Linked DNA regions of Homo sapiens. The protein of the gene in region 2 purifies or fractionates together with the protein of the main gene of each other region. This does not show direct contact. Each region holds a gene or a part of one and is shown on either strand. Other genes may lie near its edges.

Region 1 (7,886 bases), on a different chromosome or scaffold from region 2:
TGGTGCATGCCTGTAGTCCCAGCTACTCAGAAAGCTGAGACAGGAGAATTGCTTGAACCCGGGAGGTGGAGGTTGAAGTGAGCCGAGATTGTGCCATTGCACCCCAGCCTGGGCGACAAGAGTGAAACTCTGTCTCAAAAAAAAAAAAAAAAAAAAATTTAGCCGGGTGTGGTGGCACATGCCTGTGGTCCCAGCTACTGAGGAGGCTGCGGTGGGAGGATCTCTTGAGCCCACGAGTTTGAGGTTGCAGTAAGCTGAGATCATGCCACTGCCCTTGAGCCTGGGCAACAGAGTAAGACACTATCTCTAAAAAGAAAATACCAAACCAAACAAAACACAGGCAGTGTGCAGACTGGCTGTGGCTTGCCACTCCCTGGCCTGAAGCCTGGCCTCTTCCAGTCAGGGAACATCAGGGGTTCCAGCTTCTGCCAGTTTAAGTCATCTTTTCTGGTGTATTTCAAAGCCTTACTGTGAGTATGGGATTAATAGGCACAGGAAGGGACCTGGTGTGTGACAGATGGGTGGGAGGCCCATTCATTCACACACCCCGGGACTTGCAGTGACTTCCTGTGTATTGGATTCTTCCGCCTCTCATTCGCATCCATGATGTTGAATTCTGACTCTGTTTAACTTGTAATGTCCACATGAAGCCATTCTAAAATCTCCAGATCCCTCTCAGAAGGCCCTGGGGATGACCAGTTACCATGTGTCTTTATCTTTGAAGGAAATTTCCAGAACTCTTTGCACAGTTCAAGTCCTTCCTGGGGGTAAAAGAGCTGTCCTTCGCGCCACCCATGAGCGACAGATCCGGGGACGGGATAAGCCGGGAAATTGATTATGCATCCTGCAAGCGCATAGGATCCAGCTACCGGGCACTCCCCAAAACCTACCAGCAGCCCAAGTGCAGTGGGAGGACAGCCATCTGCAAGGAGGTAGCGCTCCCTGGGGCTCAAATGTTCGTTGACATGGTGCATCCCCCACCCCTCCCCAGCAAACACCCGATACCCCCGTTATGAATGAAATGCTGTGTGCTCAGCCCTCCTGAATGTTGGGTTATGGGTGGTGCTGGGATGTGGCCCGGCAAAACCACCTGAGCAGAGACAACAGTGTTGTACCCTGCTGGTAGTTTTGGCAAAACACAGAGTGCCAGGGATAACGTGGAGTTCGGCTTATTCATCTGTTATTTGACTTAGGTTTATTGCTGCCATGATTCTGCTCTGTCCCGGGCTCACTGACCTCAGTGTGTTTCTGTTTAGCTTGACCATTGGACACTTCTCCAGGGTTCGTGGACAGACGATTACTGCATGTCCAAGTTCAAGAATACCTGCTGGATTCCAGGATATAGTGCAGGGGTCAGCAAACTCTGGCCCACGGGCCCTGGCCCGCTGCCCGTGTTTGTAAATAAAGTTTTACTGTCACACAGACACAACCATTCCTTTACATATTGCCTGTGGCTGCTTTTCTCACCACAAAGGCAGAGTTGAGTATTCATCTGGGATGGCCTGCAAAATCTGAGATGGTTGCTGTCTGACCCTTTGCAGAGAGAATTTACCAATGTCTGAAATGAAATCGGCCCTCCGGATCTGCAAGTTCCTCATCTGTGGTTTCAACTAACCATGGATTGAAAATACGTGGGGAAAGAGAAACCAAAAAATGACAATACAGCAATAAAGCGTAATCCACATTTTAAGAATGCAGTGTAACAATGATCTACACAGCATTTACATTGCATTAGGTATAAGTATTCTAGAGATGATTTTGCATAGGATATATGCAAATAGGATTCCATTGGACATCAGGGACTTGAGTATCTGTGGATTTGGGTCTTCAGGGGTGGTTCTGGAACCAATCTCCCAGGATACCAAGGGAGTGTCCACTTGACCAAAGTCATGTTTTTCCTTAAAAACTTTATGCACCTTCCCATTTGTATAAGGCAGTTGGTATTATGTATCAGGATGGTATTATGTATCTTGGTACTTTCTACACTGGCTAACAGTAAATCTTGGCTCCTGGGGCATGCAGCGTCATTCACGGCATTTCCTCTTGGTGCAGGTACTGAACGACACCTGGGTCTCCTTCCCTTCCTGGTCTGAGGACTCCACGTTCGTCAGCTCCAAGAAGACACCGTACGAGGAGCAGCTTCACCGCTGTGAGGACGAGCGCTTCGAGGTGTGTGTGCTGCTGTGGCCGGGTCCCCCGGCATGTGCCTGTTCCCCTTCTCCATGGGACATGCATCCTGATCCTCCTCCACTGCCCCAGTCTCGTTTGGAGGAGCAGGAATTGCAGCACATTCCAACAGCTCCTGGAAGCTTCCTGCCGGGTCTTGCTGGCCTTTGGGCTGGCTACCAGATGGCACTTTTCTTTCTGTTTAAAAATTTTGTTTGGGCTGGGCGTAGTGGCAGACACCTGTAATCCCAACACTTTGGGAGGCCAAGACAGGTGGATCATTTAAGCTCAGGAGTTTGAGACCAGCCTGGGCAACATGGCGAAACCCCATCTCTACCAAAAATACAAAAATTAGCCGGGCGTGGTGGCGGGCGCCTGTAATCCCAGCTACTCGAGAGGCAGAAGCAGTAGAATTGCTTGAGCCAGAGAGGCCGAGGCTGCAGTGAGCCGAGATCACACCACTGCACTCCACCCTGGACAACAGAATGAGACCCTGTCTCCTAAAAAGTTTCTTTAATGTAAAAATTAAATTTATTTTTATTTTATTTATTTATTTATTTTGCTTGCTCTGTTTCCCAGGCTGGAAGTGCAGTGGCGTAATCATGGATCGCTGCAGCCTTGACCTCCCAGGCTCAAATGATCCTCCCACCTCAGCCTCCTGAGTAACTGGAACCACAAGTCCATACTACCATGCCCAAGTTGTTTTTTTTACTTTTTTTGTAGACATGAAGTCTCACTGTGTTCCCGAGGCTGGTCTCACACTCCTGGCCTCAAGCGATCCTCCCACCTTGGCCTTCCAAAGTGCTGAGATTAAAGGAATGAGCCACCACACCTGGCTAATTTTTTTTTCCTTTTTTTAGAGACAGGGTCTGTATTGCCCAGGCTACATTAATTTTTGTAATTAAAAGTTTTATTGGCTGGGCACGATGGCTCACGCCTGTAATCCCTGCACTTTGGGAGGCTGAGGTGGGAGGACTGCTTGAGGCCAGGAGTTCAAGACCAACCTGGGCAACAAAGCAAGAGCCCATCTATACAAAAAAAAAATTTTTTTTTTTTTTTGAGACAGAGTTTCACTCTGTCGCCCAGGCTGGAGTCCAGTGGCATGATCTTGGCTCACTGCAACCTCCACCTCCTGGGTTCAAGCGATTCTCCTGCCTTAGCCTCCTGAATAGCTGGGATTACAGGCACACCACCATTCCTGGCTAATTTTTTTATTTTTAGTAGAGACGGGGTTTCACTATGTTGGTCGGGCTGGTCTCGAACTCGTGACCTTGTGATCCGCCCATCTCAGCCTCCCAAAGTGCCAGGATTACAGGCGTGAGCCACCGTGCCCGGCCATAAATTTTTTTAATTAGCCAGGCATGGTGGTGCACACCTATATTCCTAGCTACGTGGGAGGCTAAGGTGGGAGGATTGTTTGAGCCCAGGAGGTTGAGGCTGCAGTGAGCTTTGATTGTGCCACAGCACTCAAGTCTGGGTGACAGAGCAAGACCCTATCTCTTAAATACACACACCCCCCCCCCAAAAAAATCCTCTGGTCTCTGAGGTCCCAGGCTCCTCTCTGAGGCCTCTTGAGTTCCCCAGTGGCTGACCCCGTCCTGCCTTCCTTTCCATAGTTAGACGTTGTCCTGGAGACGAACCTGGCCACAATCCGTGTGTTGGAAAGTGTGCAGAAGAAGCTGTCTCGGATGGCGCCGGAAGACCAGGAGAAGTTCCGGCTGGACGACTCCCTGGGAGGCACGTCGGAGGTGATCCAGCGCCGTGCCATTTATCGCATCTATGGCGACAAGGCCCCGGAGATCATCGAGAGCCTCAAGAAGAACCCTGTCACCGCTGTCCCCGTTGTCCTGAAAAGGTGCCCTGTGGCGTCCCGACTTCCCTTCCCCTTCCCCTTCCCCCTTCCCTCCCCTCCCCTCCCCTCCCCTCCCCACTGCAGGGAGCCCTTGGAGAGCTCATTAGTGCTGTTTGTCAACAGGTGTCATCTCCAGGGGTGGTCTCTGAGGCCTAAGGGTGCCTTCCTGTATTTCCCAGTCTCCCACTCCTGAGAGGAGAGCACTGTGACCTTCTAGGACTTTCCACCTTGCACATAATACATCTAGACATCTAAATAACTGCTTTAAGAGTCAGATGCGACCACTACACTGTGGCTTGCATTTTATTTAATGCTGCATTTCGGATGCCGTCCGGCGCTAGTTAACAGGCATTTATCAAGTGGTCACTTTCAGGCAGGTGCAGTGCTTGGCCCTGGGATTATGCAGCTGAGTGAGGCAGACCCAGTCCCTCTCTTGGGACTCACAGCTGAGCAGGGGACCTGAGTGGTTGAGCCAACAGCCATGCGGAGAGTGCTGGGTGCCAGGGAGGAGGTGGAGGAACCGGGAAGCCGGCCACATTGGCTCTGTAAGGCCATCACGCCCTCCCTCTGACGTGCACAGAGCCCACTGCACAGACTAGGCTGGGAGCTGGCTGGGCCTGGGTCCTGGACCCCCAGTCAAGTCCCAGAGGAAGACAGGCCAGCCCTGGGATGCTTCAGGGAGGATGCCCTGGCTTGTCCCTGGTGCTGACCTCTCTTCCCCCCGCAGACTGAAGGCCAAGGAAGAGGAGTGGCGGGAGGCCCAGCAGGGCTTCAACAAGATCTGGCGGGAGCAGTATGAGAAGGCGTACCTCAAGTCCCTTGACCACCAGGCTGTGAACTTCAAGCAGAACGACACCAAGGCCCTGCGCTCCAAGAGCTTGCTCAACGAGATCGAGAGCGTCTACGACGAGGTAAAGCCTTCCCTAGCCCTGCCGGCCGGTGGGGGTGGGGTCCTGGCTCTCCCGACCGCCGGGTCTGTGCCTCTGTTTCCCTGGTGGTTAGGCAGGGTAGTGGCATTGCCCTTTCAGGGCTGTGTTGAGGCGAGGGTTCATGTCTCTGTGATGCCCAGCCTGTGGCCTGCCCTAGGAGAACCAGCAACTCTGCCATTGTCTATCTGTTTGTTTGTTTGGAGACAGAGTCTCGCTGTGTTACACAGGCTGGAGTGCAGTGGTGTGATCTCAGCTCACTGTAACCTCAGCCTCCTGGGTTCAAGTGATTCTTCTGCCTCAGCCTCCTGAGTGGCTGGGACTACAGGCGCACACCACCACACCCAGCTAATTTTTATATTTTTAGTAGAGATGGGTTTTCACCATGTTGGCCAGGCTGGTCTTGAACTCCTGACCTCGTGATCCACCCACCTCAGCCTCCCAAAGTGCTGGGATTACATGCGTAAGCCACCGCTCCTGGCCGACTCTGCCATTGTCTAGCGAAGTCTCCGTCCCTCCCGTGGGGCAGTGATGGACTTTGGCTTAGGTAGTGGGTGGCAGCAGCCTTCATTTCTTTCTTGCCGACTGTGCCAGGCACCGGTGTTAGCAACACAGAAAGAGTAATGCATCATCTGACCTCACTCCTGAACCTGACTCTGCTGCGGCATTATTCTGATTTTACCAGTGGGGAAACTGAGGCACAAGAGGTTGCATTTGCCTGGGCTGGTCGCAGGGGGCCAGGGCTCTGAGTCATTGGGTTCGAGGCTTTCGGCTGCATGTCCTCACTGCAGGCTCACAAGGCCTGAGTCATAGAACCAAGGCCAGCGGGGCCCTCAGGTTGCCAGGAGCTGGGCCTGTTAGTAGCTGTGTGTAGGGAGTGCCTGCTTGCAGGATCCTGAGGTGGGAAGCTTGGCAGGGTGCCGGGCGTGGTGATAGCCAGCTGTCGGGAAGGTCCTTGGACACTCTGAGGAGGTGGCTTAGGAGGGCACACTACTCCCCAGGCAGTGCCCAGATCATGGCACGGGCTGCGTTATCAGCCTGGTGCCCACCTGGGCAGGGGGTGTTGCCTCACCTGATTTGGTTTCTTGCTCCTGTCACTGCACAGTGAGCGGTCGCTCCTTCTTTTACAACACAGAAACGGAATCCACAGGAGCCGGGCTGCTGGCCCAAGGCCTCTCCCAGAGCCTGTGGGACTGTGGGGACCCCCTTCCCTCCCACCTCCCTTCCCGTGGGCCACCCTCGCCCCAGGCCCACCCACAACCACTCTGGCTTCCTCACTCTAGTCCTCGGCGATCCTCAAGCCCAAGACCCCGTATAGGTTCTGTGGGTCTGTGGTGTCTGCAAAGTGCAGATGATGAAGTAGCCCTGGAAATCCACCAATGCGACCCTGAGTTCCTGGATCCCTCCCTGGGGCTGGGGCTGACAAAGGGAGGGGCACCAAGGTTCATATGCAGATCTCTGCACATGCAGGTCCTTGATGAATTCCAAAGTCAGAACCCCATTCCATCACGTGATTTACAAAGCATGGTTACAGATCATGGACATGGGGACCCTGCTTCAGAGGGGACTGTAAAGGAATTTTCAGAGTGTTTATGGCATAAATGAGACCTGGGGGACTTAGGAAGCAGTCAGAGGGCGATGGTCACACTGAAGAGCCCAGAGCAGGGCTGAGCGTGCAGACTCCTAGGAACCAGGTCAGTGTGCTTGGCCCTACCAGCCTCTAAGCCGCCTTGCAGGGGAGGAGGAAGGGAAACCTCAGGCTGCTAGGAGACCCGGTCCTTCCCTCGGGAGCCTGCAGAGATGGCATCCACGCTCATTTTCCCCAAGAGCCCTGCTGCGTCTGCCTCCCTGCCTTGGACTGAGGGGGTTGGGGCTGCCCAGCAGAGGCCCTGGGTGCCAGGACAGTGGTGTGGGAGGCTGGAGGAAGGGGTGATTGTCTAATGGTGTGAGGGAATGAAAGTCATGATCTAGATAAAGACCAAGGGGAGGGGTGAGCCTGGGACAGGGTTTTCCAGGGAGTGAGAGCAGATGGGCATGTGCAAAGGCCCTGCACACGCAGGAGGGAGCTTGGCGCGGTGAGGCTGGAGGAGCTGTGGAGGGGCACATCAGGGGCCGGCGTCTTCTGAGCAGCCTGGGAAAGCCTGAAGGGCATTAGTTGGGGTGACCATGCTCCTGTGGGCCAAGTCACCCTGGACCCAGTGAGGAGAGTGGTTGGAGCAGGCTGGTGGGAGCTGGTGGGAGGGCTGGTGACATGATGGTGGTAGCAAGCACGTGCAGGGGCTGGCGGGGACAGCAGCGGAGGCGGGGGCTTGGTGACGATGGGCGTGCAGGTCTTCAGATGTGAGCAGTTGCAGGCCTTCCGGGTAGTAGATGGAGGGCAGAGGCAGAGAGGTCACGGCTCACCCTTTGCCTCCTTGACTTCATCGATAGCATGGTGTGGGCAGCCCCGGTCGAGCTGGAATCAGGCGCCACCGTTGCTTTCAGTAGGAGGAGGTCAGCCTCAGAGGCTTCTCCATGCTGAGCCACGGGGCCCCGTTCTGTCCTGGAGCTGGGCTGAGCGACAGACCCAGGCTTGACGCTGTCAGACCCCCTGTGAACCCCGCCCCACATCTCAGAATCCTCTTGGCTCCTTTGTCTGGGGTCCCGGGATGACTTGGGTCTGCCTCACTTTCGGAGAGGGGACCAGGAGCACATGGGGCTGCACAAGAGGTTGAGGCAAGCGACCTACCCCCCAGGCCCTGCTGCCTCACCGATGTTCGCCACCCATCCTGCTCTGGGCAGCGCTCATCCACCTTGGTGGCCCAGTTAACAGCGAGTCGTGAATGGGCACTGGGGGTCCTCTGGGTGCTGGGTGGCTTTCCACCTAATGGCCGCCCTTCCCCCCACAGCACCAGGAGCAGCACTCGGAGGGCCGCAGTGCCCCCTCTAGCGAGCCGCACCTC
Region 2 (7,534 bases):
TTTCTATAGAGGTGGAGACTTCTGTTTCCTCTACTTTAAGTGGGCAATATTGGATTGGACATCTCTGGCCCCTGTTAAATCCCTCTCTTGATCTTCTTTGTGAAGAGTAATCAAGCCAAGTGTGGAATGCTGACATGGAAATGTCTCTACTGAAAGTGTGTCCAGTCAATGAAACAGCTATAGATGGGCTTGTCTTTTGCTCTTCCTTATCCCATCACTAGGTGTGATGGACAGAGTCAGCTGTCCACAGAGTTACTGTGTGCAATTGTTCCCAGGAAGTGGCTGCCTAGCCAGGGACTACTTTTCTAATCCCCACGCCTACCCCTAACCCTTGCATTTAGGAATATGAATGGAAGTCTTGGTCAAGGCTTTCAAGAAGCGGGTGGGCCTTCTTCACACCCTTTCCCTTCTGTGGGCTAGATGTGAAAAGCTACAGATTCTTGGAGGATGGATGAGCCACAGAGTAGAAGCAGCTAGATCCCCAAATTACTTCAAGGAGAGGCAATGACCAGGGACATTTGCCTTAGGCTATACCGTAAGTGAGAAATAGCTTGTATTGCATTTGAGGCAGTATACATTTTTGGTCTGTTTCTTACATCTATTTAGTACCACTCTAAGTAATACACTAGGTGGGTGAGTTAGCCCCTAATTTTCCATGCAATTGAAAAAGGAAGTAATCGGAGCCTGCTTGCTCCCGTAAGTATATTCCAATGTTTAGATTTGAAGAGAGAACACGAGTCCTCCATTTTGGCTTCTGGTGACACTCACCAACTCAACATTAGCAGATAGCTGTAAACTTTGGAGGCCAATGGGCACTTAGCTTGTCCATTAATAAAAATGATAATTTGATTCCCATAGGCTGGGGATGCTTTGATCTAGTTTCTATCATTTAGAATTGTGATTGGGATAAGTGATTATTACCTCAACTTTCAATACATACTCATCTCATAGAGGATCTGGACAGAGCCTCATAGGAGAGCTACAGCATGAAAATGAGAATGTAATGCATGTGATGGCCCTAGAGTAACATGTCAAAAGGCAGACAAGGAGTTCCATCCCACTCTATGGATGGGAAGATGGTGTTAAAGACTTGGGCACAGACTTAGGTGTGGAGGCCTGGTGTTCCAGCTAGAACACTGGGGATACCACACTCTGTAACACTTCGAAACCTCAAAGGTCAGGGGTTCAATATGAGTGCAGACTATTGGAAGAGATGCTCCTTTGGGATGGTAGGCATAACAGATGGTAGAGATGCACATCTGTTGGGAGTAACATCTATCACACTCCTGAGAGCCTACAACTGGGTATTATTTGTAACCTAGATTCCTTCCCCTGAAATATCTCTTGGGAACCACAATTTTTCTTATGACCAGATCACAGCAGACAAAGAGAAGAAAAGGAGAATCACTGGGCAAACAGCCATGACTTAGGAACTTAGAATTTATTATGGAAAATACTCCTGGCATTTCTCTGAACTGGTGCTTGGTGGATGGCTGCCAGTAGCAAGCAGACAAGATGGGGTGCTCTGTCCCTCTGTAATACAGCTATTGTTTACCCACAAATGATCCTTCCTTCCTTCCTTCTTATTTCCTGAGTGAAGAAGGTGGTCCATAAGGTCTCTGCCCCACCACCATAGTATGTAGACTTTTCAGTGATTAGGGCAACAGTTTAAACCATAATCTACACTAATGCAGGCCTAGTTTGGGGAAAGAGAAGTTGCCAGCATGTAAGAAAAGAAATGTGCACAAAATACAAGTATTTTTTTTTGCAACAAAAGAAACTATTTATTTGGAATATGCATTACCAGTACAAATTAGGAGACTGTAAAACCTACACCGTGTTAGTATCATTAGAGAACACAAAAGTTCAGTTGGAATCAAAAGGGACAGAAGCCTGTGCTCTCACAGAAGCAGAAAAGCTTAAACTTTCAAAACCAAAACAGAGCAGAGCTTTGCAGGTTTATATTCTGAATAATAAGAAAAGGGGAGGGGTAGGGGGAGAATAAAACCAACAACCAAAGGAAAGCATTTCAAATTGAAAATGCCAAAGGAAAGAAGTAATAAGAGAGAAAAGGAGAAAAACATTGAATGTTTTATTTATTTTAACAAAAGAAAAAAAAGTTTACAAAAAATAAAAGATTCCAGGAAGCTTTGAGCTAGGGATTGAAACCATAAAGGTGATGTGAAAAGCTCATCATTATTTTGTTGTGACTTCAAGAGTACAAGTGTTCAGGTAGAAATATTTCCTAAAGCATTGCTCCACAATTCTGCATTCTTTCTTTACTTTTCTTGCTTAAGTTCTGACCACTTTCTGAACATAATTTGTTGAATGATGGTATTTAAAATGAATTTTTTTCCAGATAATATGGCTTTCTTTTTTCCTCTAATAAAAACATTCCAAATCAAGCCAGTTTTGCAATTTGCTTTAAGCAGCTGCCTAAGTCAGAGGTTACTAAGAGGTGTACTCTGTGAAGTAAACGTAACCTCTTAGCATTAAAACTACAGCATTGAGCCTGGCCCAATATCTCATTAACTCTTCATCCAAAACCAGGACTCAGCTGGCAGACTGGCCCCAAGGACTTCTTCCTGCATGTAGTTTACTTAACCAATGGTGCCCATCATACCAGCATCTCCTGCGGGACTCTCCTGGAAGAAAAGGCCTCTTTGGTTGGAAGAGGCCTCATGGAATGTAGTTATTAATTAGGGAGAAATAAAACAAAGTACTTGGCTGTGATAATCAGAATCAAAAACAGCAAAAACCTTTCCTGATAGCATAAAAAGTTCCCTTGGACTAAACGTTTTTGAATTTTTAAAAGGCTAAAAGGAGAAGTATGTCCCTGATTTTATTTTTCTCAGGGACTGCATGAGTGTCACACTCTCTGGAAATGCAGGTGAGCAACGAGACATCAACATGGGCTTGATCTTCGCTTTTGGCATTAACTGAATTCTGAAGCAAAGTAGAAGAACAAGCCTACTTGTTCTTACTCCTCTGCCCAAGTCATCTTTTCACATCACCTTGTATACATATTGAAGAAAAACAGCAAGATCATAATCCTGACAATTAAAAAAAGCCCCCCAATAAACAAACCAAAAATAACACAAAACAAAACATTTTTTTTTTTGTATTTTTAAGAGCAAGAATCAAGAAAAGAAAAGAATTTATTTCTGGGTCTCAAAGTTAATAAACATAATAATGTGTTAGGTTGTACCTATTATGCTCACTATTCCAACCTTTTTTTTTTTTTTTTTAGTTTACAAAATGAATTACTGTCACTTTTAAACATTGTGAAACAAGAAATGGATGTGCACAACTCGACACTTTTCTAGCATTCTTGAACTAATTCACAAATGCAAGAAAATAAAAGAAAAATGAGGGAAATGATGAATGTAGGTAGTCTGGTGTTAAAAACTAATGCAGGAATGATGCGCATTGTCACAGAAAGAAGAGGGGAAATTCCCCATCCTGTTTTGCGTGCTATGAGGGTCATTTTTAAAATTTTTATTATAAACACTATTAAATTCAGACCGCTTTTTTGGTTTTTTTTTTCTTTATCTGAATATACAAGAACATTCATTATCAAATGTTCATCATCAATACTACAAAGAACGAGACACAAGTCGCAAGAAACAATGGAAAATGTTAATAAAGCTGAAAGAATCGTTGAGTATTTTTTTGTTTCTTTTAAAGTTTTTTTTAAATTTGAGTTTCTGTAGTTTCATCTTTTTTGGTATCGAAGTCAGGTTTTTCTGGGCAGAAAAACAAAGAGCAGGAAAGAGAGAGACAGAGAGAAAGATGTGTGAGAAAAGACAACCAGCAAATAAAGAATCACCACCATAGCAAAATAAAACATAAATTGAAAGAAGGTGCCACTTGGCAAATGTACTGCACGGGCGTCAATTCCATGCCAGAGGGAGGATGGATTAGGGATGAAAAGGAGGAGATAAGGAAGAGTTACAAGGTGGGCAAACCCAGGGTCTAGTATCGTTTCTCAGGGGAAATTCGCTGTCGGGGAAAATGGAGCACTCCCACATCTATTAGAAAATGAAGAAATCCTGGGGTGCATCTTGCTCTCTGTAGGACTGGCCTCATGTGAATTCCCAGGAAGCTGTGTTTCCAGAGGCATGCTCTTTCCAAACCCATCCTGCTGCTCTCAGTGTTCTCCTGCTTCGCCTAATGTGGACAGATCTCACGGATGCCACGTTGGAAGTCGGAAGTGATAGTGGGCTTGCCGGGGGTGCCGGGGGAGGTGCTGGGTATAGAGAAGACTAAGTGAAATGCTGGTTGGGGAAAATGCTGTGAAAGGTGATCATCAGTGAAAACTACGGCCCGGAGAGAAACTGCCTGTGCAAATGTAGCCCTGTTCTGATCTTTTGCATTAACTTAACATGGCAATTATTCAGGCCACATCTGGAGTCACTCTTCTTGTTTCCAAGAGAACCCTTTTGTCTCTCTTTCGTACTTTGCCCTAAGTCAAGCAAATGTGATTCAACCATGTTCTTGCGTGGGTAGTTTCATTATATTCCTGCCACTAAGATGGAGTTCTCCACTGATTCTAATCACTATGAAGTTGTCACAAAAATGCTCCTTCTAGGCATCTGTTCTGATTAGGGCTGAAGTTAGTAGACACAACCTTTCTAGTGCCTTTTAGTCATCAAGGCATAATTTCATTTTGCTAAATACTTAGTTTTTGCATTTCCTTCAAATACACATTCCCTTGAGTTTCTTCAGTGGCATCCCCTGCTCCCCTGAGCACACACAGTGTTTTCTATTTATGACTGTAGTGCCAAGCAGAATTTCCATGTTCTTGCTAGCTGCCCATTCTCACCCCTCAGGGTCTCATACTTCTCCCTGGAAGCCTCCCAAGCAGTCAATGTGACAGGGACCAAGTATGTACAAGGCAACATATTGGGTTCAAGTGCAAACTAAGGGAACCAGGGCCTGTTTTTCTAGTTTGGAAGTTTTTCTTTATCCTAAGAAAAGAGACAGACCAAAACCAAGAAGATCAACAATAACTCTTCTCTTTGTCATCACGGTGATGACATCAAGGTACTGATATTAACCAGAAGTTACAACAAGAAAACCATTTATTGTCCCTAGATGGCATGAACCCGTTTATTTCAGGGACATTACTTCCCCTGACTTCGCATTTACAGATTGGATATGAACAAAATCAACTTCTCAGTCTCTCACAAGACTCTTAGTAAGCCAGGCATAACAGTTCCCATCTCACAGATGAAGAAAATGAGGCACCAAAATATTTGACCACCTCCCACTTAATCAAGTGATAGAGCTGCCATCTTTATAACTGGTAGGGTTGGCTATGAAGATGGTGAGCTCAGGTGACTTTTGAGAATAGCTTTCATATACATGCTATTTTCTCATGTATTTTTAGTACACGCTGTGTTCCCAGGGAATAAAAATCACTGTGATGATTTCAATGAAAACATTACCTTCCCTTTCCCCATGATTCTCAGGTCCTCAAATGAAGCTAGCAAAAGTTCACATGAGCCACGTTCTTATACAACTCTTTCCTCCAGAGCAATAGGTCAGGACCAAGAACATAGTGTGGTATAACATTTTGGAAAATTAATACAGTGTGCCTAATATAAAACAAAAAATTAAACAGAATCAAGTCCATTAAAGACATTGTAAGTACTGTATGGGGCTCCCTGAGTGCTCCAGAGGTGGTGGGAACAAGAGTAGTTTACACTGGAAACCTGGTCTTCCTCATGATCAGGTCCTGTGTATGCCATTCTGGTAAGTGCACGCTAGTGGGCCTGCAGGTCCTGGAAGCCCCAGACACATACTGCTTCTCTGTGTCAGTGACCTTCACTTAGAGTCACTAATTCCCTCTCTCGGGCTCAAAAGGCATAGTGCTACAGTTATTAATGTAGGTAATTGTATATGGCATCTCGGGAAAGTGAAGATGTGAGATGGTACATGTGCCTACATGTGCATGAACGTGTGTGTCTATGAAGGCATAGTTGAGGTTGAAGGGTTTCACGATAAGAACTTTCTATTCCTTGCTGATGCATTCATCACCATGCCTAACTCAGGCCCAGTTTTGCAATAGGTTCTAAATATTGCTTTCTCAGTGCTGAATGGTCTCCAAAGACTGTGCCTCTGAAACTGAGAGCTATTGCTAGCAGGGTAAGAAAGACTGTAGGAATTCTCCACCTGCTGTTCCCGTGTCCTTCCCTGCTGCCTGACTTCCTGCCCGGGAACCAACCTAGTGGAGATGAAACTGAAAAATGTGGCACCTTTAGAATCCCAGCTATGACAGTCCCCAGTGAATAGCTGGGGCTAGGAAGGAAGAGGAGGAAAGTGTTCCAATCAGTACTGTCCCCAGGGAGGAAGAGCAAGAGGAAGCAGGGAGGCCTGGAATGAATAGGGCAATGTGGAGTATTCCTGCTAAGAGGTAGTGAGAGTAATAAGAGAAACAGAGAAGGATTGCCTGTTAACATAGGGAGTGAGGGATTCGAGTGAGGTAAATTTGGCTCCTCAAACCACCAGCATGAAAACGTACAAACACTTTTATTATTTTCTTTGTAATTTTTTTCCTCTTTAAATTCCTCTAATTGTTGAAAATATCCTTCAGTGATATGAGAGAGGGCGGGGACCCCGGGAGTCTAGGACAGAGGCACAGGGGCAGGGAAGATGACGAAAACCAGGCTGACAGCTGGAGGCAGGGAAGGGTGGCTTCTACCCAGAAAAAAAAGGGAAGAGAGTATAAAGAAGTGTCCAGATTGGCTGAAATAGCATCCCAAAGAAGAGAAGAGAAGGAGACTCTTATTGTGTTTGCTGATTGCTTCGACCTCCAGTCTGACCGCTTCAGCGTTGGGAGAGAAACCCTCCCTCCTGCCCCTGCCCCAACTGGGGCACAGGGTCAGCCGGGATGCGATTGCTGGGAGATCAGTTGGAGGTATCAGAGTGAACACTGCCAGGGCCTTCTGTAGGGGAGGTCACTGATGAAGGGGTAGTAGCATCCTGCCAACCTCCATTAGCCTAGAAGGGAAAAAGGGAGAGAAGTCAGTCCTCTGAGATTGGGTGGCTGTTTTCAGCAGACAATGACAATGAGGCATCTTGTGTAAAGGACCTAGCATAGTGCCTGGCACATGGAGACACTCATCAAATGGGCAACTATTACTGTGGGTGATAATATTGCCCCCACCCTCAAATAAGTTTGGGTCCTCCCAGTGAGCCTCTGGATATGATGTTAATACCTCCCACTAGTATGATGTGTTTATACTTCCCAAAGACTCTGTAATTAAGTCCCAGCCAGCAGTGAAATGACAGCTGTCCTGCAGGTCAAGGGACTCAAGTTTTGGTTCTGGCTCTGGCAACAACTAGCTAATGTCGATGGTAAAGCACCTTCACCTATTTGACCTTAGTCTTCTTTTTTGAAAAATAAGAAGGTTGGCTCAAATGCTTTCTAGGGTTCTTTCTGACTCTGGATGTCCCATGTATTTATGGGATTCCAGGTATTTGTTCTGCACAAGGTTCTATACTAGATGCTCATGGGTATATAATGATG
Region 3 (7,886 bases), on a different chromosome or scaffold from region 2:
ATCTGATCAACTGGGGTTACAGCATAGACGCCAGGGTCAAATTGCCTGGGTTCAAGTTCTGTGTCACCTGAGCAAGTTACTTCATCTCTTAGTAACTGAATCCTCATCTGCAAAATGGGGACAATAATGGCATCCATTCTCATCAGGTTGAGATGAGATGATACACTAAAAGGTGTATAATAATGCCTGACACACAGTCTTCAAGAAGTATGAGCTATTATTACTTGGTCACCACTTTTCCTACCACCTATGCCATTTGGCTTTCTCCTTTTTTTTTTTTTAATTTTTTATTTTTTTGAGACAGAGTCTTGCCCTTATGGCCCAGGCTGGTGTGCAATGGCGTGATCTAGGCTCACTGCAACCTCCGCCTCCCGGGTTCAAGCGATTCTCCCACCTCAGCCTCCCGAGTAGCTGGGATTACAGGCGCACGCCACCACACTTGGCTAATTTTTGTATTTTTAGTAGAGACTGGGTTTTACCATGTTGGCCAGGCTGGTCTCGAACTCCTGACCTCAGGTGATCCACCTGCCTCAGCCTCCCAAAGCGCTGCGATTACAGGCATGAGCCACTGTGCCGGGCCTGGCTTTCTCTTTCACCCAAGAAAACCTATTGTTACATTGCATCAGTAGACACATCTGCTTTTTATAAAATTAAATTTTGGTTTGATAAATAATTTGAGCAATACAAGATGATTTCCAGTGGGTAAAATGAATGAATTTTCAAAGCCCCCAGAAATCATATAGGCTGAAGCTTCAAGAAACAGGCAAATTGAGAATTCTGTACATTTCAAGATCAATAAAACTGTTTGAACCCTGAACCATAAATTCACTCCCAGGAATTTATCCTAAAACGGAAAAAGTCTAGAAAGTTGTTCCTTAAGACTTCTTAATAGTGAAAACTAGATATAGCAGCAATTGTAAGGATATTTACAGTTTGCTTCAGAATGTTCCAGCAAAAATAAATAAAATAAAAACATGAATTAATCTCAAAGTTGAAGAAGAGGGAAGAACAAATCAAACAAGAGGAATTGTGTTGATAACTGTTGAGGCTGGTCATGGATACATGTGGGCTTATACTGTTTTTCTATTTTTATTATGTTTGAAAATGCCCATAATGAAAAGTAAAAGATAAAAGCCACAAGTCCTCTTCCAAAGGATAATTATGAAGATTAAAATACAGAGAAAATGTTTATGAAACAAACTAAGTAGAAGAAAGTACACTACCAAATCCTATCTGTGAACACAACTACGCTACATAAAATTTGCATACACATCAAAACAATGAATAAAGCAATCATCACGATAATGGGATACTGGGTGATGATCATTCTTCCTTTAAATATGTTTCATTCCTTGATTGATAATAAAACACAAGACAATTTAAAAGGTGTCTTTTTAAAGTTTTTCATGGCTAGCCAAACGTTAATTAAATTTTCTGAAAGTTTTAATCTAAAATATTTCACAAATAATTTCAACAGGAATTTGAATACAATTTAACTTGCTTTATTCAATTTTACTCAGGCAGTTGTTCAAGAGTCACTGGTGCTTAATTTTTTTAATAGACCACTGCCACACATCCTTCTAAAGAAAACCTCAAAAACAAATAAGCAAATACTGAAGTTATTACTAAAACTATCCCTTTGGAGGAGGAGAATGTTAGTGCTTTCATCCTAGAAAAGGCAACTACTACGCCCAAAGAAAAAAGGAAATTTCAGAGCAACAGAGGCAAATCAGTGATGAAATCTGAATTTAGATAGTAAGAGTCCAACTTACCTATCTCTTTCACTAGTGGTTGTTCATTTAAACAAACTCCCATTTTGCTGTTACAGAAACGTGGCATTTCCCCCTGCACTCTTTATGCTGTTAGGCACTGAATGTTACCTTTTGCTGTGATCTGGCTCAGGGTGCTCCACCTCTGGCTTTGCTGTTGATGACCTTCTCTCTCTTGGAACCTGATATTAGCACACATGAAAAGAATTTAGCTCTTATCCAGTGAAGTGCAGTTTACCCAAAGATACAGCCTTTTATTTTTCAGTAAATTCAATCATTCATTTATCTACTGGTTGCCTAGCAAACACCAGGCTATGGGGACACACAAATTATAATATCTGCCCTCAACGAGCTTAAAATCTAGTCACCCATCTGGTTGATATGTAAAAAGCAACTGTTATTGAGTTGCCAAATAAACTCAGGGCATGATAAATTTATTTTGTCATGGAGTTTGGGTCTCATCTCTTAAAAAAAAAATACCTCCGCTGGCCACAGCTGGTGGCTCATGTCTGTAATCCCAGCCACTTTGGGAGGCCAAGGTGGGAGGATTGTTTGAGCCCAGGAGTTCAAGACCAGCCTGGGCAACACAGTGAAACTCATTTCTACAAAAAAAATTTTAAAATTAGCCAGGCGTGGTAGCATGTGCCTGTAGTCTCAGCTACACAAGAGAGACTGCGGTGAGAAGATCGCTTCAGCCCGGAGGCAGAGGTTACAGTGAGCAGAGATTGCGCCACTGCACTCTGGCCTGGGCGATAGAGCAAGACCCTTCCTGACTCAAAAAAAAAAAAAAAAAGAAAAAAAGAAATACCTCTGCCCTGGTTTTACTCGTTTATCTACACAACATTAGAGAAGAAGCTACTGAAAACACAACGGAGCTCTTCCAACTTTCTCAGTGCTCTTTCCTACCACCCTCCATTCAGATCAAATGCAAAAGCAGAAGGAACAGCCATGTTAACCCTTCATTTCTTCTAAGATCCAAATGAGGGCTTCATATGATCACTGTCTTTAGATACGCTGGGATTCATACGTCCATCACCCAAAGGACAAGTCTAACTCAGTGTTCTATTCCTTTTTTGGTTCTTTTCTTTGCAAGGGAAGTGAAAAGTAGGCAAATGTTAGTGAGTGTCCTGTAGAAATAACTCAACTGAGATTTAACCCCATTGCGCACTCCAAAATGGCTAAGGTGCTTAAAAATGGCTTTCAGCGTGAAAATTCTATTCCTGCATCCTTGTTTTCACCATTAAAGACAAAACACTGCTGGCCAGGCGCGGTGGCTCACGCCTGTAATCCCAGCACTTTGGGAGGCCGAGGCGGGTGGATCACAAGGTCAAGAGATCGAGACCATCCTGGCCAACATGTTAAAACCCCGTCTCTACTAAAAACACAAAAAATTAGCTGGGCATGGTGGCACACGCCTGCAGTCCTAGCTACTCGGGAGGCTGAGGCAGGAGAATTGCTTGAACCCAGGAGGCAGAGGCTGCAGTAAGTTGAGACTGCGCCACTGCACTCCAGCCTGGGCGACAGAGCGAGACTCTGTATCAAAAAAAAAAAAAATACTGCTTCATGTATTAACAATATGCTTTTCAAGCTTTATCAAAATTATTATGTAATAATGACTGATGCTTATACAGCCAAAGACCTGAAACAAATAATTCAGTTTATTTGAAAAAGAAAATAGGCCAGGCACAGTGGCTCACGTCCGTAATCCTAATACTTTGGGAGGCTAAGGCAGGAAGATTACCTGAGGCCAGGAATTTGAGACCAGCCTGGGCAACATAGTGAGACTCCTCTCTACAAAAAATTTTAAAATTAGCCAGGCATGACCTATAATCCTAGTTACTCAGGAAGCTGAGGCAGGAGAATCAGTCAACCCCAGGAGGTTGAGGTTGCAGTGAGCTATGACTGCACCACCACACTTCAGCGTGGGCAAGAGCGAGACTCTGCTTCTATTAAAAAAAAAAAAAAGAAGAAGAAGAAGAAGAAAATAAATTTACACCTATCACAAGAAGTCTGACAAGTAAGTACCACTAAAATTGTCACCCTTCATGGACAGACATGAGGATTTACATGCTTCTGAGACGCAGGAGTAGTACACCTAGTGTTATCACACGGGCCTTTCTGGCACAAAACTTGTACCAACGAGTTTCTCCCATTCTCAAAAGTTTCAGTTAAAAATATGTAACTTCATAATTAATGTTTTAGGAACTTAATTTATAGTAAGTCAATAAAACAAGCTATAAGAACAGATATATAATAATTTCCACTTCAAAGGAACTCTTCATGGCTATGTTTCCCTGGTAAGAGTTTCTTCTAGCATCATTAGTTATTACACAAGTTTCTGCTCATATTCAAAGAAAAAAGAGCTTACCTCAATCCCTCAGCCCCAACTTAGTTAGACGCATGGCCTCATACTAGGAAATAATCACCCCATTTTTTTTTTTTGAGATAGGGTCTGTCTCTGTCACCCAGGCTGGAGTGTAGTGATATGGCATGATCTCAGCTCACTGCAGCCTCCAACTCCCAGGCTTAAGTGATCCTCCCACCTCAGCCTCCTAAGTAGCTGAGACTATAGGCATGTGTACTAACCGGCTAATTTCTGTATTTTTTTATTTATTTATTTTTGGTAGAGACAGGGCCTCATCATGTTGCTCAGGCTAATCACCCTAATTTTAATAATAAAACTATCTCCTAGGCTTCTTTCACCTCTGTATTTCTTGTATTAAGGAAAGAATACAGTGCCAGAATGTAGCCAATGGCTAGCAACTGGCGATTCTGGGTAAAGGTATTCAGGAATTAATTATCCTCTTATTTTAAGTTTTATGCAGGTTTGAAAGTTTTTAAAACAAAAAGATAGCAAAAATAAACTGTAAAAAATATACACTACATTCATGAGAAGACACTGTCATTAAGAAGCTTCTGGTAATCCCAAACAGATCCTGTTTTTATACAGGTACTGATGACAACACAATGATTACACAGGTTAGTCACACAGAGTGACAATGAGACAAAGGCCCTGTGGCAAAGCTGTGCTTCAACTCAGTCTGCTGTTTTAAGTAGCACCCTAAAGACGTAGCCACCCCCAAATGTGTGTTTCTGGTCAGAAGGAAGAATGGAGAGGTGAATCCAGAAGGAGAGCGGTATGCACGCTGCATTAGAAAGACAGTGGCCTCGGCCATGGACCAGACTAGGGCCCCAGATGCACACATCCTAGCTGTGACCTCTGAGTGAGAAGTCGCACGCAGGCTGGTAACATGTCTAGCATAATAGTGGCAGCTAGTGTTATCAGGACAATGATGATGAGACAAATCAGTAGTGTCACTTCCAGATAATGAAAATCATGTAAAATTCCATGCAGAGTATAGATTATATTTAATTAAGAGTACTCCAAATCTCTAGAAACAGGCAACAAAACATATCCTGATCTTGGAACTGGACAGTCCTAGACTACAGAATATGATTTCAAAGGCTCTGTAGTATCATTTAGGGAAAGGAAATCATCCTGACTACCCAGGAACAAAGGTGAAAAGGTAAATGACCCCTGCCCACTTTCCATGGCACTAAGAACCACCTTCAGTGAGATGCTCAAACCCAAGAAGGCACATCTAGCATCTTCTTTTACGGTAGCTTCACCTTCTGGATAGAGCCACAGCAGCTGACCGCTTTGCATGTTTTAAAAACAACCCTTTGATTCTACAATCACAGATTTTTAGCTTCGAATCACAGTAAGTCAAAGTACTCATTAAACTATTTATAGTCACTACAGAAGCAACTTGCATGGCATTCTACCAGCAAATGTCTGTTTCTATGCTGCTGAATCAAGTGCATTGGAGACTGCTGTTAAGGGTTTTAAAGGCAGGCAAACCCACCTTGTAGTAGTCATAGAGCAGGCCCAGCGCAGCGGCGCTGTCTTCATCTCCATTGATGCTCATCATCGCTTTGGTCGCTGCAGTGAGAGGGTTTTCCAGGAAGGATTTCCAGGCCTCATCCTCACTAGTGTAGGACCGCCGCTGTGGATAAAGTGCTTCATTCTGAAGAACCAACACTGGCCGTTTGCTTCAGAGAAATTAAAAAAAAAACAAAAACACACACTTTTCTACTGCAAGGTATCATAAGCTACCAATTCCTTGACATTCCTATAAAATAGCCTATTGTTTCATCAATGACCCTAGGAAGTCAAATTAAGACAAGACCAGAAGACAAACCACGTAAGTGCAGACCAATGGGTCCCACAGTAAGACATAAAGTATCTAGGCAGCCAGAGAACTGGCAGTTCACCTACACGTGGAACCCAGGGTATACTATTTGGCAAAAAAGCGAAACAAAACCATCCCCGAGAAAATGCCAGGCTATTCAAATACTTTCCATAAACAAACACAAGGACACAGTAAAGAAAAGAGAATACTTGTTCTCTTCCAACACACAATCAGGACTGTCCCCTCTTGAGAAGAGCGTGTGCCGTTCATCACACTGCTACATGTTATTCCCTCTTTCTACTGTGGCTGCCATGCCTTAAAAATTCCTACCTGAACACAGTGGGGAGGGGAGAAGCAGCAGAAAGAAAAAGGGATCCTTCACGCAATCCTCCAGGGTATATGAGAAAGCCAGAATATTCTACTGATTACCAGCAGATTGAGCATGGAATGTGGCCAAAGGGGACTGTAAATCAATAAAGAGGCATAATTTTCTGGCATGGGAGTTAACTGTTTATCTTAGAGATAAACACTTAAGGATATCCAACAATAAATGAAGCCACTGAACAAAAAGTTTTAAAAAAAATAGGTGGGAAAATCTGGCTTTTAAAAAATCTTTGCTAGTTTTCCACATTGCACAAGAACTGTTTCATTTTAACACTGTAGTTTGGTGGGAAAAATCCAAAAAAATCAATGGCGATCTTAGTGAAACCTTACAGAAGATTTAATTTAAAAGATTAAAGCAAACATTACTAATTCCAAAAACTTGAAATGTAAACAGTCTCAACAACTGTTCGGTTGGTACTATTTAATAAGTCAATAAAGAGAAAAAATGGAACACTGACTCTAGCAAAACAAAGCAGTTTATTTTCAAGGAGAAAAATAAATTTTAAATGTTTGGAACTCCTCTGAATTATTACAATTCTAACAAGCAAATTGAAGGACTGGCTCTCATTGCAACACACAAATGAAATATGTAAATGGCCTAAAGGTGACCTGCCTATTTTAAAAGTGAATGTAGAAAGACTGATTATCTTTTCAAGTAATCAACAAAGGTTAGCGTTTGGGAGTCACCCAGGGCCTTTAAGAACAGATACAGATTTAGAAAAAGGAGAACATCTTCAAAAAAGGGGAAAAAAATCCAACAATGTATCCTCAGTCAAAATGAAGTGTTATTTGAAAGCCAATGTTTTTACTCACGTTTTGGCATAAACGTTACATTTGGTAAGAAAGTCTTGAGGTGGTATACTATTTTAACACAAAACAAACATAAAAGACTGTTCAAAGCCAGCAGATCATTTGTCTAAAAATGGAGAAGATTGCTTACACAAATCTCAACTTTAAAGAAAATAAAGAAATATACAAAGTGGCATTCCCTGAGCCATCAGGACCAGAGTACAACAGCTACTGAACGGCTGGTGCCATGGACTGATTGACTGATGTACTGCTAAGCTATAATTAATAGCGTAATAGCTACTTCCAGAAGACTATGACAGCACTTGGCTGTTCAATTCCCTTAATGCTAGTTTTCAACTTCCCTTCTTCTCCCACCCACATCCCAAATTTGTACAAGCAATAGAAAACAGAGAAAGAAATGGCTTTATGTTTGGAATCACCCTGAAGGTGTTTCATATTTCCAAAGCCTGCCTAAGGCCAAAATGTTAGCTTTGGAAAATTTGCCTTATCTAAACTATACGTCAAGAAATAAACACAAAACCAGTTGCCTTTCTTAGTCCACTTCCTCATGACAGTCAGGAAGTAGGCTTCAGTCGCCGAAGGCTCATCATCACTTTCAGGTGAGCCTTAAACTCCGCGTCTGCGATCTCTCAGACTTCTGAAATATGTTTCAGGCAATAATTTAACTGCATATTCTACAACATAAGAGTAATCCATTTAAGATACTCCATACAAAATATCTATCTCATCC
Region 4 (7,886 bases), on a different chromosome or scaffold from region 2:
ACTATTCACAATAGTTGAGATGTGGACTCAATCTAAGCATCCATCAACAGATAGATAAAGAAAATGTAGCATATATACACAATGGAGTACTATTCATCCATAATAAATTTGAGTTCATGGAAGTAAGACAGTAGAATAGTAATGATTAGAGGTTGGGAAGGGGGCTGGGGAGAGGAGGGTGGGGAGAAGTTGGTTAACAGATACAAAGTTATAGCTACATGGGAAGAATAAATTCTAGTGTTGTGCAGCATTGCAGGGAGAATATAATTAACTATAATTTACTATACATTTTCAAAAAGCTAGAAGAGAGGATTTTGAATGTTCCAACACAAAGAAATGATAAGTGTTTGAGGTGACAGATATACTAATTACTCTGAGTTGATTATTATATATTATATACTTGTATCAAAGTATCACTCTAGGCCAGGCACAGTGGCTCACGCCTGTAATCCCAGCACTGTGGGAGGCTGAGGCAGGCGATCACCTGAGGTCAGGAGTTCAAGACCAGCCTGGCCAACATGGTGAAACCCTGACTCTACCAAAAATACAGAAAATAGCCAGGTGTGGTGATGTGCGCCTGTAATCCCAGCTATTTGGGAGGCTGAGGCAGGAGAATCGCTTGAACCCAGGAGACAGAGGTTGCAGAGGCAGGAGAATTGCTTCAACCCAGGAGGCGGAGATTACAGTGAGCTGAGATCACGCCACTGCACTCCAGCCTGGGAGACAGAGCGAGACTCTGTCTCAAAAATAAACAAACAAAAACCTCTACATCCCATAAATATATACATTATATAGCACTAAAATTAAAAGAGAAAACACAAAACAAAAAAAGAAACCTACCAGTACCAATAACATTTCCTATACTAGTTTCAAGCTGACACCATTTTCTCTCCCTTCCCTTGACCTTATCCCACCCCAGGGAGAGCTGCAATCTGAGTGCTCTGAGTCATTGAGGGCCAGGCTTCTGCTCTGAGGGCCACTTCTCTGGGTGCATTAGGAAAAGGCACCCCTCCGGGCAAACACAATGGATTTCAGCCCCACCACATCCTCAGCTGTGTGCCTCTGTTCCACACAGTAGGCATTCACACATGGCAGGGGCGTGAGGAGAGGAAGGAGAAGAGAAACGGGCAAAAGGAGATGCAGAAAATGACCCAGTCAAAGAGTATGACGAGAGAAATCTGAGAGAACAGAATGACATCTGGAGGAAAAGAGGGGGCCAGAGAGACATTCTGGACAAAATAAGAACAAGAGCTCAGAGCCCAGGAGTCAGGACATCTGGGCTCAAGCTGTGACCTGACACCCACCCCATGGCCTGGGACAAACTCCTCCCACTCTCTGGACCTCAGTGACTTCATCAGTAGGGGCTGAACTGGAAGGTCTAAAATCCCTGCCAGTCCTCATTCTGTACATCTGAATTCACAACAATGAGGAGCAGGTGGCCGCCTCCTTCTGCAGTCTGTCCCAGTGCACATACTGCAGAGTCTGCCTTGCTATCTCTCCCTCCTAGCTATTGCCCTGCCATTAGCCTGGGACTCCACCTTCCTAGAGATCCTGGGTGGCTCTGCTGCTGACAGACAGACCCAGCCACCCTAAACAGTGCAAGTGGGGGAATACCATCAGAGAGCCCCTCCCCTCCCAGCCTATGAGAGCAGGAAGGTTGAGCCCTCTACCCCTCCAAAGGGGACTGGGCCCTCTTCAGGGTAAGTGTGATCCCCAGAGGCTCCCGGGGGGGAGGAGATGTGGTGCCATTTCAGCTTCACAGCCAGTTCTTCAGCCCCAAACCCTCCCTTTCTCACTATCAAAGCCCCCTCCTCTAGGAGGTGCCCCGAGGCCCCCTTGTCTGCTTTCCATCTTGTTCTCTGTGTGGTAATCCCATGGGCCAAAGAAAACCTGGCCATCTCTGTCTCCCTTCCCCAGTTACCCTATCTCTTCCAGATCCTCTGGGTCTTTGAGAGGAGCTGCTGGTCAGCCCTCCCTCAGCCACCCCCAACCACAACACCATAAAAAGCTTCCACCAGCTGCTAAGTGTCTGCCAATGACTTGTTAAGAGGGCTTGTGATGGCAGTGATGAGGATGGAGGATGGTAAATGATATTAATAATCTTCCCTTCCATTTTCTACTATACCATTTAGTTTTTTGAACAGTTTTGTGTAAAAAGTTTATTTTTTGAAGTGACAGCATGCCAGTTATTTCATTTTATGCTCATGCAATCTACAGACTAATTGGCAGCAGTAAGGATTATCATCTCCATGTTTCAGATGACAAAACTGAGCCCCCAAGTCTTCTAAGGTCCTGCAAGTGAATGGCAGGGCTGGGACCCACCGTCCTGGTCCCTGGCGCCCTGCCCAGGGACGGCCTCTCACCTGCATGAGCTCTGCAGCTGGCTGCTGCGCCTTGCCCTCCAGTTCGGAGATGACCAGGGCCAGCCGGGCAAGCTCCCCGACGCCCCGGCTCTTGAACTTCTCCCTGCCCTCCGTGAGCTCCTGCTCCAGCTTCGCCAGCTGTTCCAGCAGGTGTTCCTCCCGCTCCCTCAGGAACTGATGACCCTGCTCAAACTCAGCCACAATGTACTGCCTCTGGTCCTGGAGCTTCTTCTGCAGGGGGCAGGAAGGGGAGAAGGGCTGACACCTCTGCTCAGGGTGGAGGGCCCAGTGCTGGAGGTGTGCAAGGCTGGCTCGTTCACCTCGCTACCCCCGTTCAGGAATTCTACAGGATCTGGAGTGGGAGGAGCTACAGAGGGTTCCTGGTCCACACTCCGCTTCTCAAAGAAGACTCCAGTAATGAATTAGTTCAGTTCACCCCACCACTATATGGTCAAAACCCTGTCTCCACCTGACTGGTCAGCCACAATCTGTTCTAGCTAAACCAGTACGCTCTGGGGCCCCTAGAGAAACTCTGTGGGTCTCACTCATGAGCCGACGCACTTTTCCCTCCTGGACAAAATCTGTCACCTCTTCCAGGAAGTTTTGCTTGATTAATGTCATCTAAGCCTGACCAGCCCTCTCTTCAGCACCCCACTGTTCAGTCTAAAATATCTATATGTACCCCACCCCTGCCATGTAAGACTGCATCCTGTTTCCTCAGCAAAATTGTGTGACGTCTGTGCTTAGGGACTATGTCCTTTCCTGCCTCCAAATCTCCTCCCCAGCTGGGGTTGGGGGAGTCCTCAGTGGCCCTGTTGACTGGTGCTGAGCTGGGGGCAGCCATGCACACTGAGGGCCTGGAGGGGTCCTTGGACTTGGCTGTCTCTAGCTTACTGTTTCCCTCTCCCTAGGCCTAATGACTCACCACTGGCCCTGACCCCACTACTCCTCCACTGCCCACTTCCTCAACATACACAGTTCCCCAGAAAATCAGAACCATTTGATCAGTTCCCCCCAACCCCATCTCTAATCAAGTACATAATGTGCTGCCTGTTTTCTAACTACAGTTGTCCCTTGGTATCAGTGGGTGATGGGTTCCAGGATCTCCCTCCCCAAGGATACCAAAATCCAAGGATGCTCAAGTTCTTATGTAAAATGGAATAATAGTTACATAAAATCTACTATATACTTTAAATTATCACTAGATTACTTATAATGCCTAATATAATGTAAATGCTATATAAATAGCTGTTACACTGAATTGTTTAGAGAATAATGACAAGAAAAAAAATCTGTACATGTTCAGTAGAGACGCTTTTTCTTTTTTCTGAATATTTCTGATCCATGGTTGGGTAAATTCGCCGCTACGGAACCCACAGATATGGAGGAGGTCCCACTGTACTGGCAACCATGATCCTGGGCCTGGACCTCACTACATACAGTGCCATCAGAATTGGCAGACCTGCCTTAGCTGTTTTCTAGCCCTTCCCTCTCAGTTCTTACCCTGGAGCCAGCTCCCTCCTTCTAAACCCTCTCCACTCTCAGGCAACCTTGTCTCTCTCTCTCTCTTTGAAAGGAAGAATGAAGCCACACCTTCTTCAGTCCCCTGGCAGAAGAGAACCAGCAGCTGGACATGGGCCCTGCCTTCAAGGTGACAGTCACAGAAAACGGAAGGGACTCTAGCTGACATCCAGGCAGCCCACTTGTCTCTCAGACAAGAAACAGGCCCAAGACTACACGGCTCAGAAAGACAGCACTTGGGCTAAAACCCAGGTCTGCTACTGCCAGGCTGACACCCATCCTCCCTGTGAGCAGCGCCTAGAAACACCTCCCAGCTGCCGCCTACTTGCCCAGGCTCACCCTGCCCTACACGGGCGCACCGCCTCAGGGCTTCCTGAAACAGCCTCACTTACCAGCGCGGCCAGGATATCAGCTTCTCCCTTTGCCTGGAAGCCCTGAATTTTGTCTCTGTCCCTCCTTAGGGTACTCAGGTGGTTCAGGATTTTTTCCTGTGGAAAAACAAGCAGTGGCAACAGGTGGATGCTCTGGGCTGGGGCAGGAAGGGAGACTCAGGCTGAGTCCTCTGAGGACTGCAAGGTGGAGCATCCAGAGAAGGTGGCAAGGCACCCTCGGGGGTGAAGAGGGCTTACCCTGTGGGGCTGGGCGGCCTTCTCCATGAGGACGGCCGTGTGGGGCCTGTGCTCCCGGGACTCCCGGCACATCACGCACAGCAGCTTCCCGTCGTCCTCACAGTAGTAGTGCAGCTTCTCTCGGTGTCGCTCGCACAACTTTGCATCCTGCTGCTCCCGGGTCACCTCTCCCGGCTGCCTGCCCTTGTCCACCTTCAGCCGCTCAATGTTCTCCACCAGGCTGGCCAGTTGCCACACGGGTCGGATGTTCTCCTTCTTAAAAGGCTTCTTGCAGAGTGGGCAGACGGGGCGGCTCCCTGAGATGGGGCGGACGTCTGTGGTGCAGCTGCGGCAGAAGACGTGGCCACAGTCAATGGTCACAGGGTCCCGCAGGTAATCAAGACAGATGGAGCAGGTCACCTCCTCTTCCAGGCTCCGTAGTGGGGCTGACGTGGCCATGGTATCCTTAGTTCAGAGAGGTCTCCGTTCACTGGTGAGGACTTCTTCTCCTTGGAGACGCGACATAGAGTCAGGAGCAAGCACAGTAAAGGGGCAAAGGTGGCAGCCTGCACAGGGCTGCCAGCTCCAGCACTCAGTCAATCGACAGACACCACCAGCTCCTACAAGGTTCACACAATGTCAACGAGAAGAGGACCTTATAGATCTAGTCCAACTTCCTCATTGTACAGATAAGGATATGGAAACCCAGAAAGATTAGCTTGGTAGAGTGAAGAGCAGGACAGCCACTAGCCTATACCTTGCTGTTGGGAGAGCCTCAACACCCTTTCCTTCTATCTGTTGGAAAATCGCTGTAATGCACCAACTGTAATAAAAAATCTCTCACTACCTGCTGGGAAACTCATAATGATACACATATAAATCTACAATGTCTACTGTGGACACAGTGCTCCTTCACTCAACTGTGCAAAGCACAAGACACACGAGCAGTCATGGGGGTCCTGACAGAGTCAAGAGACCGCCCGTTTTTTTTTTTTGGTTTTTTTTTTTTTGAGATGGAGTCTTACTCTGTCGCCCAGGCTGGAGTGCAGTGGCGTGATCTCAGCTCACTGCAACCTCCGCCTCCCAGGTTCACACCATTCTCCTGCCTCAGCCTCCCGAGTAGCTGGGACTACAGGCACCCACCACCACACCTGGCTAATTTTTTGTATTTTTAGTAGAGACGGGGTTTCACCGTGTTAGCCAGGATGGTCTTGATCTCCCGACCTCGTGATCCACCTGCCTCGGCCTCCCAAAGTGCTGGGATTACAGGCGTGAGCCACTGCACCTGGCCAAGAGACCCCTTTTGTTTGCTCCTCAAGGTTTCAGGTTTCAAGAACTAAGAGAGGGCAATGTGACATGGCTCACCCTGTAAATCCAACACTTTGGGTGGCTGAGGCAGGAGGATCACTTGAACCGAGGAGTTTGAAACCAGCCTCAGCAACATAGTGAGACCCTGTCTCAACTAAAAAAATTTAAAAATTTTTTAAAATACCCCAGTGTAGTAGCATGCATCTGTAGTCTCAGCTACTGAGGAGGCTGTGGCAGAAGGATTACTTGAATCTGGGAGGTGGAGGCTACAGTGAGCCATGATTGTACTACTACACTCCAGACTGGGCAACAGAATAAGAGACTGTCTCAAAACAAACAAAAAACCAGAAAACATTAAAAAACAAACAAACAAACAGCACTGAGGTTCTTTACCAAAACTCGAGAAGCATCAGGAAGCTTCAGGAGTCTGACTGTCAGCATTTCCCTTTGTGAGTATTTCCCTGGGCTGTTCTATAGTTTGGGTTTAATTTGCTTCCCCTAGAAGGCTGGACTCTAAACACAGCCCTCCAGAGGAGCACAGCTTAGCCTCAGTGGACTTGTTCTTGGCTGTAACTGCCTCGTCTAGATGGCAGGAATCCTCAGGTGGCTGTGGCTGCTATGTGCTGTGAGGCCTTGGCTTGTACAGGGAGCGGGGACACACAGAAAGGACTCTGCTTCTGTTTACCTTTGTAGTCCTGACCCAGTTCCAGGCTGAGGTTATGAGCCTCAGCACATCTAACCCAAGAGCAGCCTCCTGCCCCTGACTCTGTGTGACAATACAGAAGTCACTTAAGTACTGAGCCTCAGTGTATCCATCTGTAAAATGGGAAGAGTGATACTTACCTTTAAGGGTTTCTAAGCAGGTCATGTGAAAGAATTATGGGAAAAGTGCTAAGCACAAGCCTGGTACACAGACGGAAATCTAGGAGAGAACCCACAACCCCTGGTTTCCAAATCCAGTGAGTGTCCAAACCACAAACAAAGAGTTAAATTCAAAAGTGGCAGCAAAAGAGGAAGTGAGCAGAACCAGCCACAGTGACACACGTGCTACAGAGTTCAACAACATCGTCACAGGGCAGTACCTGGAGGACTTGCTCTCCTATAGATCCATGGAAGGCAACTACAGCAGCGCTGGGAAGACAACCAGCAGGGCACAGAGGTGACTGCGAGGCTGGAATGAAGCAACCTGAATTACAGGCAAATCAATACTATTAATGATTATGTATGGTGAAAGTCCATCACAACAGAGTTCAGTGGCCTCTGTCAGTAGTGACATTAATGGGACAGAAATAAAACCCCCAGTCTATAAGACCCAAGAGTAAACAAAACAGGGATATAACGTCCACTCATTGAGGGTCTAGTACAATAATACATAAAAAGTGTTTTATAACGTAAAAGGACTACATAAATATAAGAGATTCTTATAGTGCTGATAATAAATTCCAACTGGAAGCACTAATGGATCTAGGTATGTGTGACTTTAAGAGACATAATGAGGGGAAAATCAAGCACCTTCAAAGCTCAAATGAAGGATTCAAGGAATTTAACTGTCAAGTGAAAGTAATATCAAGTTCCTACATGTTAGTAATGCTGGTAGAAATGCTAGGAATTGGCCGGGCACGGTGGCTCACACCTGTAATCCCAACACTTTGGGAGGCCGAGGCAGGTGAATCACAATGTCAGGAGATTGAGACCATCCTGGCTAACACGGTGAAACCCCATCTCTACTAAAAATACAAAAATTATCCAGGTGTGGTAGCATGCACCTGTAGTCCCAGCTACTCAGGAGGCTGAGGCAGGAGAATCAATCACCTCAACCCGGGAGGCAGAGGTTGCAGTGAGCCGAGATCGTGCCATTGCACTCCAGCCTGGGTGACAGAGTGAGACTCCATCTCAAAAAAAAAAAAAGAAAGAAATGCTAGGAATTGCCTGGTCCAACTCCTTGGCTTTACTGTTGAGGAAATAAGCCTGGCTCAGCAGTTTTTCAGTTGTAACATACTGCAAGTGTTTGGAAAGAGGAAAAAGGAGTGGTACTGGGCGTGTCTGTGGGCTTTCAAGCCCTTTATCATGCCTCTTTGCCAAATGG

What was found.
Region 1: the proteins of PBX1 (region 2) and SIN3B purify together in Homo sapiens (affinity purification with western blotting, with the first as the bait; one study listed by BioGRID). This does not show direct contact.
Region 3: the proteins of PBX1 (region 2) and GRHL1 purify together in Homo sapiens (co-immunoprecipitation; one large-scale study listed by IntAct). This does not show direct contact.
Region 4: the proteins of PBX1 (region 2) and TRIM26 purify together in Homo sapiens (affinity purification with western blotting; one study listed by BioGRID). This does not show direct contact.

What each region holds. Positions count from the first base shown.
Region 1 is NC_000019.10:16,861,628-16,869,513, forward strand, and holds part of SIN3B (paired amphipathic helix protein Sin3b), read left to right. Parts: intron 1-724; coding exon 725-932; intron 933-1,024; exon of another isoform or gene 1,025-1,256; coding exon of another isoform or gene 1,257-1,352; exon of another isoform or gene 1,353-2,016; coding exon of another isoform or gene 2,017-2,052; coding exon 2,053-2,169; intron 2,170-3,782; coding exon 3,783-4,021; intron 4,022-4,745; coding exon 4,746-4,929; intron 4,930-7,832; coding exon 7,833-7,886.
Region 2 is NC_000001.11:164,846,055-164,853,588, reverse strand, and holds the end of PBX1 (pre-B-cell leukemia transcription factor 1), read right to left. Parts: intron 7,006-7,534; coding exon 6,913-7,005; 3' UTR 4,250-6,912; coding exon of another isoform or gene 4,187-4,249; 3' UTR 1,758-4,186; downstream 1-1,757. UniProt on the Homo sapiens protein: Transcription factor which binds the DNA sequence 5'-TGATTGAT-3' as part of a heterodimer with HOX proteins such as HOXA1, HOXA5, HOXB7 and HOXB8. Binds to the DNA sequence 5'-TGATTGAC-3' in complex with a nuclear factor which is not a class I HOX protein.
Region 3 is NC_000002.12:9,952,851-9,960,736, reverse strand, and holds part of GRHL1 (grainyhead-like protein 1 homolog), read right to left. Parts: intron 5,823-7,886; coding exon 5,636-5,822; intron 1,952-5,635; coding exon 1,881-1,951; intron 1,864-1,880; exon of another isoform or gene 1,773-1,863; intron 1-1,772. UniProt on the Homo sapiens protein: Transcription factor involved in epithelial development. Binds directly to the consensus DNA sequence 5'-AACCGGTT-3'.
Region 4 is NC_000006.12:30,194,153-30,202,038, forward strand, and holds part of TRIM26 (tripartite motif-containing protein 26), read right to left. Parts: intron 6,987-7,886; 5' UTR 6,883-6,986; intron 5,113-6,882; 5' UTR 4,952-5,112; coding exon 4,514-4,951; intron 4,373-4,513; coding exon 4,277-4,372; intron 2,595-4,276; coding exon 2,364-2,594; intron 1-2,363.